Linked DNA regions of Homo sapiens. The protein of the gene in region 1 purifies or fractionates together with the protein of each later gene. This does not show direct contact. Each region holds a gene or a part of one and is shown in the gene's direction. Other genes may lie near its edges.

What was found. Proteins that work in one complex are often made in the same cells at the same time.
Region 2: the proteins of LGALSL (region 1) and SCAF11 purify together in Homo sapiens (affinity purification with mass spectrometry; one large-scale study listed by BioGRID and IntAct). This does not show direct contact.
Region 3: the proteins of LGALSL (region 1) and ZFAND6 fractionate together in Homo sapiens (co-fractionation; one large-scale study listed by BioGRID). This does not show direct contact.

Annotation. Positions count from the first base shown.
Region 1 is NC_000002.12:64,455,789-64,460,071, forward strand, and holds part of LGALSL (galectin-related protein), read left to right. Parts: intron 1-499; coding exon 500-677; intron 678-2,496; coding exon 2,497-2,640; 3' UTR 2,641-4,283. UniProt on the Homo sapiens protein: Does not bind lactose, and may not bind carbohydrates.
Region 2 is NC_000012.12:45,923,832-45,929,254, reverse strand, and holds part of SCAF11 (protein SCAF11), read left to right. Parts: intron 1-395; coding exon 396-3,113; intron 3,114-4,180; coding exon 4,181-4,527; intron 4,528-5,423. UniProt on the Homo sapiens protein: Plays a role in pre-mRNA alternative splicing by regulating spliceosome assembly.
Region 3 is NC_000015.10:80,064,996-80,070,418, forward strand, and holds part of ZFAND6 (AN1-type zinc finger protein 6), read left to right. Parts: intron 1-5,423. UniProt on the Homo sapiens protein: Involved in regulation of TNF-alpha induced NF-kappa-B activation and apoptosis. Involved in modulation of 'Lys-48'-linked polyubiquitination status of TRAF2 and decreases association of TRAF2 with RIPK1.

The DNA of each region.
Region 1 (4,283 bases):
GCCAGTGCCAAGAAAGTACCATGTTCCCATGAAACGAATATGTATGAATCCCAGCCATCATTTCTCCAGACAGCTATTTATATCAGAGATTATAAATATAGGCCCACATTTTCTCTTTGACCCTTAGGGAGGCCAGAGGATTTTTTTTTTTTTTTTTAATGGTTTTGAAACATGGTGCCAGGAGCAAGAACTATCAAGATGAATAAGAACCCAACTTAACATTATTTCCCCTGGTCAATTTCTGTGGCTGTTTTTGAGAATTCCGAAGTGGAATTCTCTAATTTTAGTCATTTTCAACACCAAAGTTTTCACCAGAGCTTGCTTTAGGTAACAAAATAAGCTGGTTTGACTTACTTCTCCATAATCTAACCTCTCTTGAAGAGTAGTGGCCTCTTAAAAATGGACAAACCCAGAGGAGGAAGAAGAAATATAAGCACTTGGGTCATTTTGAAATGTTTTTATATCCAACCCTTAATCAGTGGGATGATTTTCTTTTCAGCTTTGCAATCAGCTTGACCTGTGGGGACTCAGAAGACCCTCCTGCCGATGTGGCAATCGAACTCAAAGCTGTGTTCACAGATCGGCAGCTACTCAGAAATTCTTGTATATCTGGGGAGAGGGGTGAAGAACAGTCAGCAATCCCTTACTTTCCATTCATTCCAGACCAGCCATTCAGGGTGAGTACCTCGAGTGCCTCGGCTCCAGCCACTGGCAGGCTGATAATGTTCGACTTACCTAGTGTGTGCCAAGAACACTTGAAGCAGCCAGAATTTCTGCATGTCCAGGAAATTTGTCACCCAATGGTGAAAAAAAAAGATCAAAAGAGCTCTGTTTGCTGATATAAATTAACACTTGCCATAGTATCTTCTTAGTTCTATTCAGGTCATACATTTAAATAGACCCATATTTACATGTCCAAATTGTTAAGAATAAGTAACTTTTCTATGTAGTACCCAACATATAGTAGATACCTACCCCCAAATATCTGATTGATTAATCAATACTAAGTACCCACTTATTAAATATTAATATTAATAAGGTTGAGAGCTAATAAGTAGCTCTTTTATTTGTATGACATTTTAAAGAATATGATGATGATCATTTCATTTTCTCTTGTTCCCTTTGCTAATGAGGCCATGTTCGTGTCCTTGTTTCCCCCTCTGGATTAATTAGCCTCAGTCTATTTCATGGTTACAGGCTGTGTGGCTGACAAATTCCTTCCCTTGGGGCTGGATGAATAAAGATTTGCTCCCCACTATCTTCTGGGCAGGAAGCACAATCCAAACTTTTCATCCAATCAAGCAGCATTAGCAGCCCCTTCCTCTATGAAAGGCAATGCCAAATAAGAGATGCAGGTAGTGGCACAGTGGCTTGTGCCTATAATCCCACCACTTTGGGAGGCTGAGGCAAGAGGATTGCTTGAGCAAAGGAGTTCAAGACCAGCCTAGGAAACACAGCAAAAACCCTGCCTTTAAAAAAAAAAAAATTAGCCTGCCATGGTGTCACACACCTGTAGTCCTAGCTACTTGGGAGGCTGAGACGGGAGGATTGCTTGAGCCCAGGAATTCAAGGCTGCAGTGAGCTATGTGTGCATCACTGCACTCCAGCCTGGGTGACAGAGCAAGGCTCTGTCAAAAAAAAAAAAAATAAAGGGAAATGCAAGTAGTAATGGTGTTAAAAAGGGGTCAGACCTAGTGATGAATTGTCATTACACCTTAACATTACATCACAATAATGACAACTCAGTTAAAAGCTCCATGTTACATGTGAGCCCAATAAAACACAACTACACTTAACTGGTTACCCTTCATCTAGAAATTTTCAAGTGCCTCATGAAGAAGTAATTCTTTCACTTCTCTTCTTACATTCTGGGGAAAATAAGAATCCATGATTTTTGCATTGGTGGTAGAATTGAGATAGTTGCACTTCTAGTTATAGTCTCTGGAAGGCACCCTTGACCCATTATCTCTCCTCATCCCCTTCTCTAGAATGGTGATGTCCCCTTGGGCTCCTCTTGGCTAGGATAGTTTCTTAGTGATGAACCTTAATGCATAGCTCATGAATGTGAGTAACCACAGCTTCTGACTGCCAGGAGGAATATAATGCTCCCAACAGCAAAACTGAAGTGAAATAGGCCCTTCTTGGTGATAAAATTTAGTAATATAAAATAAATGTGACTAGTATCACATATGGAGCCTCCTTACATGGTGAATGCCAATGCTTTTAATAAACCCATCATAGCACACTACCAGTAATTGAACTTTATGGTAAATTACTTGAGGAAAAAGCTTTTACACTTACATTCTACACAGGAATCAGAAATTTTGGAGGTAGAGCCCAACAATCTGTGTTCTAACAAGCCCTCTGCAGGTCTCAATGCATTCTGATGTTTGTGAACCACTGAAGATACTGCCTTTCTTTCTCTAAAATGAAGTATTGTTTGTTTTCCCCAGTAGCGTTCATTGAAATTGTGGATTATTATTTTGTTTCTTCCAGGTGGAAATTCTTTGTGAGCACCCACGTTTCCGAGTGTTTGTGGATGGACACCAACTTTTTGATTTTTACCATCGCATTCAAACGTTATCTGCAATTGACACCATAAAGATAAATGGAGACCTCCAGATCACCAAGCTTGGCTGATTTAAACCACCTCTATTTCAAATAGGATCACGTGCCACAACTATCTGACTGTTGGTCTGGAAGAAGTGTCCTAGCAAGATCTGGAGACTTAAAAAGAAAACAAAAACAAATGGCAAGTTTCACTTAAGGGTGGTTTGCCCTTAAGAAGAAAGCTGTTGGGACAAAGACACCGAGCCATTATACCCAGAATAAAATAATACATTTATGCTGGATTTTATTCAGACCAAACTAAAATGGATTTGTGATGATTTGTGATTTGGTAGCAAATTATTCATCTTTTCAAAGCAAGGCAATGCTTAGAAACAGAAGTGCTAAAGACACTTAAAAAGCCAACAACAACGGTACAGTGAAATCAATGCATTTCTGCACTAAAGTGGAATTGTGTAGCACAACCAATATTTTAGTCAGGGTATTTACATAGAATGTAGGTTGTTCAAGGTTTGACTTTTTTTTTGTTTTTTGTTTTTGTTTTTGTTTTTGTTTTGCACAGCATAATGTTAATTCAGATTGTTGAAGCTTTCTTGTAGTTATTTATTTATACTCAATGTATGTATTAAAGAATGAACAATGTCTCAAGAACAGCAAGTTGTAAACTTTTGAATGTATAAATATCTTAGGTCCAAGGGGAGAAAATTACATATTACAATTATGAAACAGGTGAATTTCTGCTTTAAAGAATTGAGATTCTCCATACCCCTAAACTTAGGATCTCTTGATATAAACTGCTGTAAGTGCTTTTGGGAAACCTTTGCAAAACCATTTTGATAAAACTGCTTTCCAAGTTATTGTTGGTTATGTAAAATTCTATTTACATTGCTTTTTCTCCTTACTGGGAATTAGCACATTATTGGCTTCCTTAAGACTAATTATTTCTCTCTTGATTTATATAATAGCTCATTAAGTTGTTATTAATCAAAAACACAAAGAGGTGATTGCTTAGACAATTTTTAAAGTGACTATAGTATAAACTTTTAAAAGAATAATATGAAAATGACTGTGGAATGCAGTGTAAAGCAGAAGCAAACGGCCCTGAATAACTTACTTGGAAGTAATTTATATCAACTTAAGCTGTTAGCTCATTGTATAACTTTTCTTATGTGACCCTCACCAATATCCCTAAGTAATGCCTTTGGAAGCTTCAGAGTAGAAGATGCTTCCTACTGTGTTGGCTCTGAGGAGATAGTAGGATTAGATAGGATCCAGATTAGGAAATGATCCAGTTAGTTTATCTGAAAGGTTAACTCCCAGGACTCCAGGTCTTTGAATCCAGCCAGTAGAGTGAATGCTTCCAATTAAGCTGTAGGTGTTACCCTGCACTTACGGAACTGATCAAACAGGTGACTCCAACAGGAGGTTGCAGTACTGTAAACGTCACCGCAAGGCAAGGGATGCTTAAAGTCCTGGGTTCTGGACTTTAAAAGCTACATTGGCCCTGGAGGGAGGGACCCTTGGCATTGCTTTGATCAGGTAGTGAGGGAAGACAGGGTTCTGGGGTGGGGGTGTATTTATATATAATTTAGGTTTTGTTTGTACAGCATACTGTGTCTTGTAATGACACATCCTTGTCCTGCTTTCCTTTTTTGAGTTTTTTTTTTTTTTTTACACAACATGCAGAGGCACTGAAGTGACCATGTCATTTTCAA
Region 2 (5,423 bases), on another chromosome or scaffold:
GCCTGGGAGGTTGAGGCTTCTGTGCGCGATGATTGCTCCAGTGATCACGCCATTGCACTCCAGCCTGGGTGACAGAGTGAGACCCTGTCTCCAAAAAAAAAAAAAATTAAGCAAGTAGCAGTTACAAGACCAAAAGTTATTTTCCTTTTTTTTTTTCTCTATAAAATTGCCCATTTGGACCAAATCTAGTTATAACTTATTTCAGTGTCATTAAGAAAGTTGATGAATAAGTCATATTACTCAGATGTTAGTAGCTATGCATTTATTAATAGTTTTATTTATAAGTATTTAGTTTCACTCTGTTGCAGACTATTTTATGCTAAAATTAGCTAAAGCCAAATTACTATTTCTTAAAACATATTTTTTACTTTTTTTTTTTTTTTAAATATTATTAGGTACTTCTTGCAAGGGATATGCATTAGCACATACTCAAGAAGGGGAAGAAAAGAAGCAAACTTCTGGTACATCAAATACCAGAGGATCAAGACGAAAACCTGCAATGACAACTCCTACAAGGAGGTCTACACGTAACACAAGAGCTGAAACAGCCAGTCAGTCTCAGAGATCCCCAATATCAGACAATTCTGGGTGTGATGCCCCAGGTAACAGTAATCCATCTTTAAGTGTTCCCTCTTCAGCTGAGTCAGAAAAGCAAACAAGACAGGCTCCAAAACGGAAGTCTGTAAGAAGAGGAAGAAAACCACCTTTACTGAAAAAGAAACTTCGGAGCTCTGTAGCTGCCCCTGAAAAATCATCTTCCAATGATTCAGTAGATGAAGAAACAGCAGAATCTGACACATCACCTGTGTTAGAAAAAGAGCACCAACCAGATGTAGACAGTAGTAACATTTGTACTGTGCAGACTCATGTAGAAAACCAGTCTGCTAATTGCTTGAAAAGTTGCAATGAGCAAATAGAAGAAAGTGAGAAGCATACTGCAAATTATGATACAGAGGAAAGAGTAGGATCTTCATCTTCTGAGTCTTGTGCTCAAGATCTTCCTGTGCTAGTTGGTGAGGAAGGGGAAGTTAAAAAACTCGAGAATACAGGTATAGAGGCTAATGTTTTGTGTTTGGAAAGTGAGATTTCTGAAAATATTCTTGAAAAAGGAGGTGATCCATTGGAAAAGCAAGACCAGATATCTGGACTTTCACAATCAGAGGTAAAGACAGATGTATGTACAGTTCATCTTCCAAATGATTTTCCTACATGTTTAACATCTGAAAGCAAAGTGTACCAACCTGTATCTTGTCCCCTAAGTGACTTATCTGAGAATGTAGAGTCAGTGGTTAATGAAGAAAAAATAACAGAGAGTTCCCTAGTAGAAATTACTGAACATAAAGATTTTACACTAAAAACAGAGGAGCTTATAGAGAGCCCCAAGTTAGAATCTTCTGAGGGTGAAATTATACAGACAGTGGACAGACAATCTGTTAAGAGCCCAGAGGTTCAATTGCTTGGGCATGTTGAAACTGAAGATGTAGAAATAATTGCAACATGTGATACTTTTGGGAATGAAGATTTCAATAATATTCAAGACTCTGAAAATAACTTACTAAAAAATAATCTTCTGAACACCAAATTGGAAAAATCTTTAGAAGAAAAGAATGAATCGCTGACCGAACATCCTAGATCTACAGAGTTGCCTAAAACACACATTGAACAGATTCAGAAGCATTTTAGTGAGGACAACAATGAAATGATACCTATGGAGTGTGATTCATTTTGCAGTGACCAAAATGAATCTGAAGTTGAACCATCTGTAAATGCTGATCTTAAACAAATGAATGAAAATTCTGTGACACACTGTTCTGAAAATAATATGCCGTCTTCTGATCTTGCGGATGAAAAGGTTGAAACTGTTTCTCAACCATCTGAAAGCCCAAAAGATACCATAGATAAAACCAAAAAGCCTCGTACTCGAAGATCTAGATTTCATTCTCCATCTACAACTTGGTCACCCAACAAAGACACTCCACAAGAAAAGAAGCGGCCCCAGTCTCCATCTCCCAGAAGAGAAACTGGGAAAGAAAGCAGGAAGTCTCAATCACCATCTCCTAAGAATGAGTCAGCCAGAGGCCGGAAAAAATCCCGTTCTCAGTCCCCAAAAAAGGATATTGCAAGAGAAAGGAGGCAATCTCAGTCTCGGTCTCCAAAAAGGGATACTACTAGGGAAAGCAGAAGATCTGAATCACTGTCCCCAAGAAGAGAAACTTCTAGAGAGAACAAAAGATCTCAGCCAAGAGTGAAAGATTCTTCCCCAGGAGAAAAATCCAGGTCCCAGAGCAGAGAACGAGAAAGTGATAGAGATGGGCAGAGGAGAGAGAGAGAAAGGAGAACCAGAAAGTGGTCTAGGTCCAGATCTCATTCTAGGTCCCCCTCAAGATGTAGAACAAAAAGTAAGAGTTCATCATTTGGTAGAATTGACAGAGATAGTTACTCTCCCCGGTGGAAGGGAAGATGGGCAAATGATGGTTGGAGATGTCCACGAGGAAATGATCGGTACAGAAAGAATGACCCAGAGAAACAGAATGAAAATACAAGAAAAGAAAAAAATGACATCCATCTAGATGCTGATGATCCAAATTCTGCTGACAAACATAGAAATGACTGTCCCAATTGGATAACAGAAAAAATAAACTCTGGGCCTGATCCAAGAACCAGAAATCCAGAAAAGTTGAAAGAGTCTCATTGGGAAGAAAATAGAAATGAAAATTCAGGAAATTCTTGGAATAAAAACTTTGGTTCTGGTTGGGTATCTAACCGTGGTAGAGGCAGAGGCAACCGTGGCAGAGGCACTTACAGAAGTAGTTTTGCCTATAAAGATCAGAATGAAAATCGGTGGCAAAATCGAAAACCCCTCTCAGGGAATTCAAACAGTTCAGGGAGTGAATCTTTCAAGTTTGTGGAACAGCAATCCTATAAGCGAAAAAGTGAACAGGAGTTCTCATTTGATACACCAGCAGATAGATCTGGATGGACATCTGCATCCAGCTGGGCCGTGAGAAAGACTTTGCCAGCAGATGTACAAAACTACTACTCACGACGAGGCAGAAATTCTTCAGGTCCACAGTCTGGATGGATGAAACAAGAGGAGGAAACATCTGGACAGGGTAATGTATTCTTGTTGGTTTATTGATACTGTTTTATTTGAAGAATTATAAATTTAATATGTTATTTGTATGAGTTGAAATGATCCTTATTTGTAGTTTTTATAATAAGCTGAACCTTAGTTGTTTACAAGTCACTTAGCATTATATAAATATATATACACGTACGTTTATCTACATAAGTATATTATTAATGCTACCTCTGCTCCAAACCTTGCCAAAGACTTAAATATTTTCAGCACTGTTTGCTACAATAGAAGAGTTTGGGATATTCCTATGCAGGATTTAACCTCTAATTTGTTTATTTCAGATATGTACACTTTTAATTTTTTTGATAATTGTTCTCATACAAATAAAATAAGCCATTGTTTTAATAGTAAAGATTTATATTTCCTTGTTTTTTTTCTTGTTAAGAACATTGCAAGATAAAGGCTGTTGAAGATGTAAAAATTGAATAACCTTATAATTTAGTAGTTAAATTTTATGTGATTTTTTTTTTTAACTAGTCAGTTTCTTGAGCTACTGATTGTTGATGTATGTTTTGCATGAACTTATTCTTAAAAATATTTTCAGGTGAATGTTCGTTTTGTTTTTTGAGATGGAGTTTCTCTGTTGTTGCCCAGGCTGGAGTGCAATGGCATGATCTTTGCTCACTGCAACCTCCACCTCCTGGGTTCAAGCAATTCTCCAGCCTCCTGACTAGCTGGGATTACAGGCGCTCACCACCACGCCTGGCTAATTTTTGTATTTTTTTAGTAGAGACGGGGTTTCACCATGTTGGCCAGGCTGCTCTCGAACACCTGACCTCAGGTGATCTGCCCGCCTTGGCCTCCCAAAGTGCTGGGATTACAGGCTTGAGCCACCGTGCCTCGCCAAATGTTTTCTTTCATTAGAAAGTCAGTCCACATTATTTAGAAATGACAGGATTAAATTAAGCAATTGGAGATTGGTATTGGTATACTGAGCCTATTAATTGCTATTTAATTTTACTGTAACCAGTGGTTCTTTGTTTCTCTGTCTAAAGAGATTTATAACATGATTTTTTTCACAAGCTTTTTTTCTTTTGATAGATTCTAGCCTAAAAGACCAAACAAACCAGCAAGTTGATGGTTCTCAGCTACCTATAAATATGATGCAACCGCAAATGAATGTAATGCAGCAACAAATGAATGCACAACACCAGCCTATGAATATCTTCCCATATCCAGTGGGTGTTCATGCTCCTTTGATGAACATCCAACGCAATCCATTTAACATTCATCCTCAGCTACCCTTGCATCTCCACACAGGAGTGCCCCTCATGCAGGTAGCCACTCCTACCAGTGTATCTCAGGGACTACCACCACCACCACCCCCTCCCCCACCATCCCAACAAGTCAACTACATTGCTTCACAACCAGATGGAAAGCAATTGCAGGTATGTTTTTAGCAACTCAAGTTTAATCAATATAGCCATTGTAAACATTTAGCTGTTCATGACAGATGTTCAAAAAAAGGCATCCTGGCATTCAAAAACAATTGTTTATTTGATTTCAGTTATGGTAAACCTTCATAATCCCTCTTTCACTATCCTTCTCAAAACCCCCCAACTCCCAAATTAGAAAATTAATTAAATACTTATTACCAAATCCAAGCTACATATATGCTGTTACTTATATCTGAACAGGATTTTTTTATTCATATTAAGTAAACCAAATTATAAGCCAAATTAGAATCGAGTGGTGGGTGCTTTACATTTTTCCCCTGTTTTGCACTGTTTAGGGGGTATATGGGGACGGTGGGAACTAGTGATTAAGTACTGTGATGAAGCTTTTATTGTCTTGTTCAGACAAACACTGGATAAAGCTGTTTATTATCCATTACCATCTGTGTTTCATTTTCATGAATTTATCATGCTAAAAAGAAAGGAGAAGTGCCTCTGTGAGACATAGAAAATTTGAATAATTTGCAAACAATTTGTTGCTTATAATTTTATGACTGCCTTTTAAAAATTTTAGAATCCTAGGCCGGGCATGGTGGCTCACGCCTGTTATCCCAGCACCTTGTGAGGCCCAGGTGGGTGAATCACGAGGTCAGGATCAGCCTGGCCAACATGGTGAAACCCTGCCTCTACTAAAAATACAAAAATTAGCCGGGTGTGGTGGCAAGCGCCTGTAATCCCAGCTACTAAGGAGGTTGAGGCAGGAGAATTGCTTGAACCCAGGAGGCGGAGGTTGCAGTGAGCCGAGATTGCACCACTGCACTCCAGCCTGGGTGACAGAGCAAGACTCTGTCTAGAAAAAAAAAAATACAAAAATTAGCCAGGCGCGGTGA
Region 3 (5,423 bases), on another chromosome or scaffold:
CTCCCCCTTTTTTTTTTTTTTTTTTTTAACAAAACAAAAAAACAGGCAAGGGTTTTTACTTTTTAAGAAAATTAGGTTAATACTTTCTTTTATGGCTTCTACTTTGCTTTTATATTTAAAGGCTTCTCCTACCCAGTTAAGTTTTCTTCTAGTTCTTTTACGGTTTCATATTTCACATCTGTCTTTTTCTGTTCATCTGGGATTTATTTTGACATATGTGAAGTGAAATAACCTCCCTTATTTTTCCTTAAAAATTTTGGCCCCACTAAAAAAAAAAACAACTTGTTGCCTTGAAATAAAGCTGCCTTTATCATATGTTAAATGCACATCTTCTTGGTTCTTTTTAGGTTTTATTGAAATATCAATGATTTGGTACCAGTGTACACTTGTATACATGGGGCATGGTATTTTCATTTTGTAAACAAGTGTGTTTCTGTTATTGTTTAAGTCTCCCCCCCATCCCCCTTTTTTGGTTGTTGCTTTGTTAGTCCTCAGATTTTTTAGTTTATTCTTTTGGGGCTTCAAATTAGTTTTGGTTTTGATTTTTTTTTTTTTTTTTTTTTTTTTGGAGACAGAGTCTTACTCTGTTGCCCAGGCTGGAGTGTGATGGCATGATCTTGGCTCACTGCAGCCTTTGTCTCCAGGTTCAAGTGATTCTCATGCCTCAGCCTTCTGAGTAGTTGGGATTACAGGGGTGTGCCACCACACCTGGCTAATTTTTGTGTTTTTAGTAGAGATAGGGTTTCATCGTGTTGGCCAAGCTGGTCTCGAACCCCTGACCTCAGGTGATCTACCCACCTCGGCCTCCCAAAGTGCTGGGATTACAGGCGTGACCCACTGTGCCTGGCCAGTTTTGAATTTTTTAACTTAAAAAAATTGCAACTTTTATAATATTTTATGTTTTATAATGAAAAAATGTAATCCTATTGAATGTTCCTCTGAGCATAGCTTTAGCTATATTACTTAAATTTTGATGAGTAATATTTTTATGTTTATATATTTAAAAACCCCTGCAGTTGCAGTTTTTATTTTTTCAACAAGTATTTAAGCACCTGCTCCATCTAGACATTCTGCCAAGTGCTGAGGACACAACTATGTACAAGACAAGGTCTCTTGCCTTCATCCAGTTACAGTCTGTCAATATAGACAAACCAACGAATAAAGAATTTTCAGATTTCGACAAGTGTCTAGGAAGTAAATAAATAATAGAAGGTGCTAATTGGATGATCTGAGACTGTCTCTCTGAGGATGTCATGTTTAAGTTGATTGGTGGTACCAAGGTGTGTATGGGAGTTTCTTTAGCTTTCCCAATCTATCGAAACATAAAAAAAAAAAAAAACGGAGTCTCACTCTGTTGCCCAGGCTGGAGTGCAGTGGTGTGGTCTTGGCTCGCTGCAACCTCTGCCTCCTGGGTTCAAGCAATTCTCCTGCCTCAGCCTCCTGAGTAGCTGAGATTACAGGCATGCGCCACCATGCCCAGCTAATTTTTGTATTTTTAGTAGAGATGGGGTTTCACCACGGTGGCCAGGCTGGTCACAAATTCCTGACCTCAGGTGATCCACCCGCCTCAGCCTCCCAAAGTGCTGGGATTACAGGCGTGAGCCACCACGCCCAGCCGAAATGACTAAGTTTTTTTGGGAAAATATTTTGTGAAAATTGCTTTGCAGGCCTGGCTGAGATCACTTGATGTCAAGAGTTCAAGACCAGCCTGGCCAACGTGGCGAAACCTCATCTCTGTTGAAAATACCAAAATTAGCTGGGCGTGGTGGCCGGTAGCTGTAATCCCAGCTACTCGGGAGGCTGAGGCAGGAGAATCACTTGAAACTTAGAGGCGGAGGTTGCAGTGAGCCGAGACTGCACCACTACACTCTAGCCTGGGCGACACAGTGAGACTCCATCTCCCAAAAAAAAAAAAAAAAAATTGCAAACAGTTTGAAGCCTCTTCCCCATCTTCCAGCTGGATTGCTGCTCCAAAGCTTGTCCTGTGTAGAAAATTTGGAACTTTGATTCTGAGTTCTAAAATCAAGAAGTTGAAGGTAGTTTCCCATGTGAAGAGAACTGCTGGCACAAATGGTACATATGCAAAGTGCTTGACTTGACTTTGAATTTGACAGAAGATTAGAATGACTGGTGTTTACTGAGGGAGGACAGTGGGACAAGCTTTGTTTCAGGACTTGTTTGGGAGACTTTTATTTTTTATTTCCAAATGGTAGGGCTGCTTCCACCCCTCCTGCCTTCCTATGGAGTTTTGATTTTGTAATCCAAATCAGTCTCCTACAAATAGCATATATTATTTTACCTCTTGTTACTTTTCTTCATTATTTCTACTGTTTTCAGTTTTCTCTACTCAAGACCTTTGCATATGCTTTTGTTTTGCTTAGTTGTGATTTCCTTGAGGAATCCTTCCTTGATGCCACAAAATAGGTTAGGTCTTTCTCTTGGCTTCATGGGCTCATTTTATATTGGGCTTTTCTTTCATAAACATTTGTAACAACTCCAGTTCATTAAGTTTGTGTGAATTGTTTTAGCATCTATTTCTTCTTCCAGAACCATAGTCTGGTAGCTACCATCCACTTGTGGCTATTTAAATAAATTTAAATTTAATTTAATATTAAAAATTCAGTTCCTCATTTGTATTAGTCACATTCTAGGTGCTCACTCAGTGGCCTTATGTGGCTAGTGGCGATTGTGTTGGACAGCAGAGAGACAGTCTTCTGCAATAATAGATACTTATCTTAATTTATAGTCCTGTGGCTAATGGCTACCATATTTTATTTAAATAGTCACATCTGACTATTGAGATATGGCAAGTCTGAACTGATGTATTAAGTTTGAAATAGGAACTTGATTTCTAGTACCAAACAATGAAAATATCTCAATTTTTAAAATATTACATATTGAAGTAGTGATATTTTACATGTATTGTGTTAAAATATACTATTACTGTTAATTTTATTTCTTAATTAAAAAAATTTTTTTTTCTTGAGACGGAATCTTACTCTGTTGCCCAGGCTGGAGTGCAGTGGCACAATCTCGGCTCACTGCAACCTCTGCCTCCTGGGTTCAAGTGATTCTCCTGCCTCTGCTTCCCAAGTAGCTGGGACTACAGGCGAGCACCACCGCGCCTGGCCTGTTTTTTTTTTTTTTGTTTGTTTGTTTGTTTGTTTTTGAGACATGGTGTTGCCTTTGTCGCCCAGGATGGAGTGCAGTGATGTGATGTTGGCTCACTGTAGTCTCAACCTCCCTGGCTCAAGGGATCCTCCCACCTCAGCCTCCTAAGTAGCTGGGACTACAGGCGCGCCACCATGCCTGTATAATTTTTAAAAATTTTTAAAATTTTTTGTAGAGATGGGGTTTCACTGTGTTGCCCAGGCTGGTCTTGAACTTTTTTTTTGAGATGGAGTCTCGCTCTGTTGCCCAGGCTGGAGTACAGTGGCACGATCTCGGCTAACTGCAGCCTCCAGCCCCCGGGTTCAAGTGATTCTCCTGCCTCAGCCTCCGGAGTAGCTGGGATTACAGGCGAGTGCCACCACGCCTGGCTAATTTTTGTATTTTAAGTAGAGACTGGGTTTCGCCATATTGGCCAGGCTGGTCTCGAACACCTGACCTCAGGTGATCCGCCCACTGTGGCCTCCCAAAGTGCTGGGATTATAGGCGTGAGCTACCGCGCTCAGCCGGTCTTGAACTTTAGAGCTCAAGTAATCTGTCTGCCTTGGCCTCTGAAAGTCTTGGGATTACAGGCGTGAGCCACCGTGCCCAGCCAATTTTTAAATTTCAATGTGACTACTAGGAAATAGAAAACCACATGTGGCTCTCATTATGTTTCTGTGAGACAGCACTGGTCTGACTCGACCATAAGTTTGTACAGTGGTAGGGACTATATCCATTTTATTTACTGTGGTATCTTCAGCGCATAACAGACGTTCAAAAGATTTGGTGAATGAATAAACTAACTCTGTTAACTTTTGAATGTTATTGCATAGTTTACAGAGAATGTTACCTATTCAGCTTTTGCTTTTCAGAATTGTTTTCTTTGTGACTGATTAAAATGGTTGAGAAAAGCTCTTTCAGTAACTATATAAAGAATGAGTCTTCGTCTTTTATGTAATATTTTATTTATTTTTTTCTGGTTTAGGCCTCCAAGGAGAGAGAGAATTTAAAGTTGGCCAGTCTATTTTCTCTTAGTTTTTCTATGTCTAGCACTTTTTCTTAGATGATCTATGATATGTTGTTTGGCACATGAAAATTTATGACTTAAAATCTTAATAGTTGAGTATTATAAATGCCTTCTCTTTTATTTTTGTCTCACTATTGTGATCCCTGTTTCTTTTTATTTTGCATTAATCAGTGACCTTGTTTATCCCTTGAGACCTAAAACAAAGCAATGTACTGTTTTTTTGTAGAAAGATACCTTATCCTATCGGCTTGGTTTATGCTTGCTTATTTGTATGTTTCCTTAATGTTTCCTTTGTGTTCAGTGTTTGACCTCATATGCCATTCATTCAAACTCCCCAACTCCTCATACACACCTTGTAATCTTTTCCCTAAGGAGTCAGGAGAGATACACCAGGAATTGCAGGCTCAAATATATCTTACTTTTGCCAGGGAAATATTTTTTTTATTTTTTGTTATTTATTTATTTATTTATTTATTTAGAGACAGAGTCTTACTCTATAGCCCAGGCTGGAGTGCAATGTCTGCTGCCCGGGTTCAAGCAATCCTCCTGCCTCAGTCTCCCAAGTAGCTGGGATTACAGGCACCTGCCACTGCACGAGGCTAATTTTTGTAGTTCTAGTAGAGACGGGGTTTCACCATCTTGGCCAGGCTGGTCTTGAACTCCTGACCTTGTGATCCACCTGCCTCTGCCTCCGAAAGTGCTGGGATTTACAGGCGTGAGCCACCACACCTGGCCATATTTTTTTATTTTTTATTCCCCATTGAGGTGTTTTTCAGAGTTTATCCTTAGTGATCCCAGTTATGTTTTGCTAATGTCAGGGTGGTCTTTTTATCAACTACTACAATAAACCACCAGTCGTGCCAGAGAAAATGCCCAGGATTAATTTCTTTTGTAGGAAGAGCAGTTTGAACTATATGGAATCCTTCAAAATTCTAAGAAAGTGTTTGCCCTGTTCTGTATATATTCTGCCAAAAGTTGTTCCTAATAGTCTAGATATTGATTCTTTATGTAAGTAGGGTCTTTTTAATCAAAAGTGAAGTGGGACCAAATTGTTCAGTGGCTTGTTCTCTTCTAAATTGTTTTTAGCTGATAAGATTTGGGAAACTTTCTGGGCTTCCACAAATAATATACAATACATCTTTGAATACTTGATGCTTAAAAAGTGTTGTTACTGCATGCAATCAGGGAGCTCCAGAGCTTTTTGCAGGCTCCTTGTTCCTGAGAAGCAATATTGTTTTCATATTAT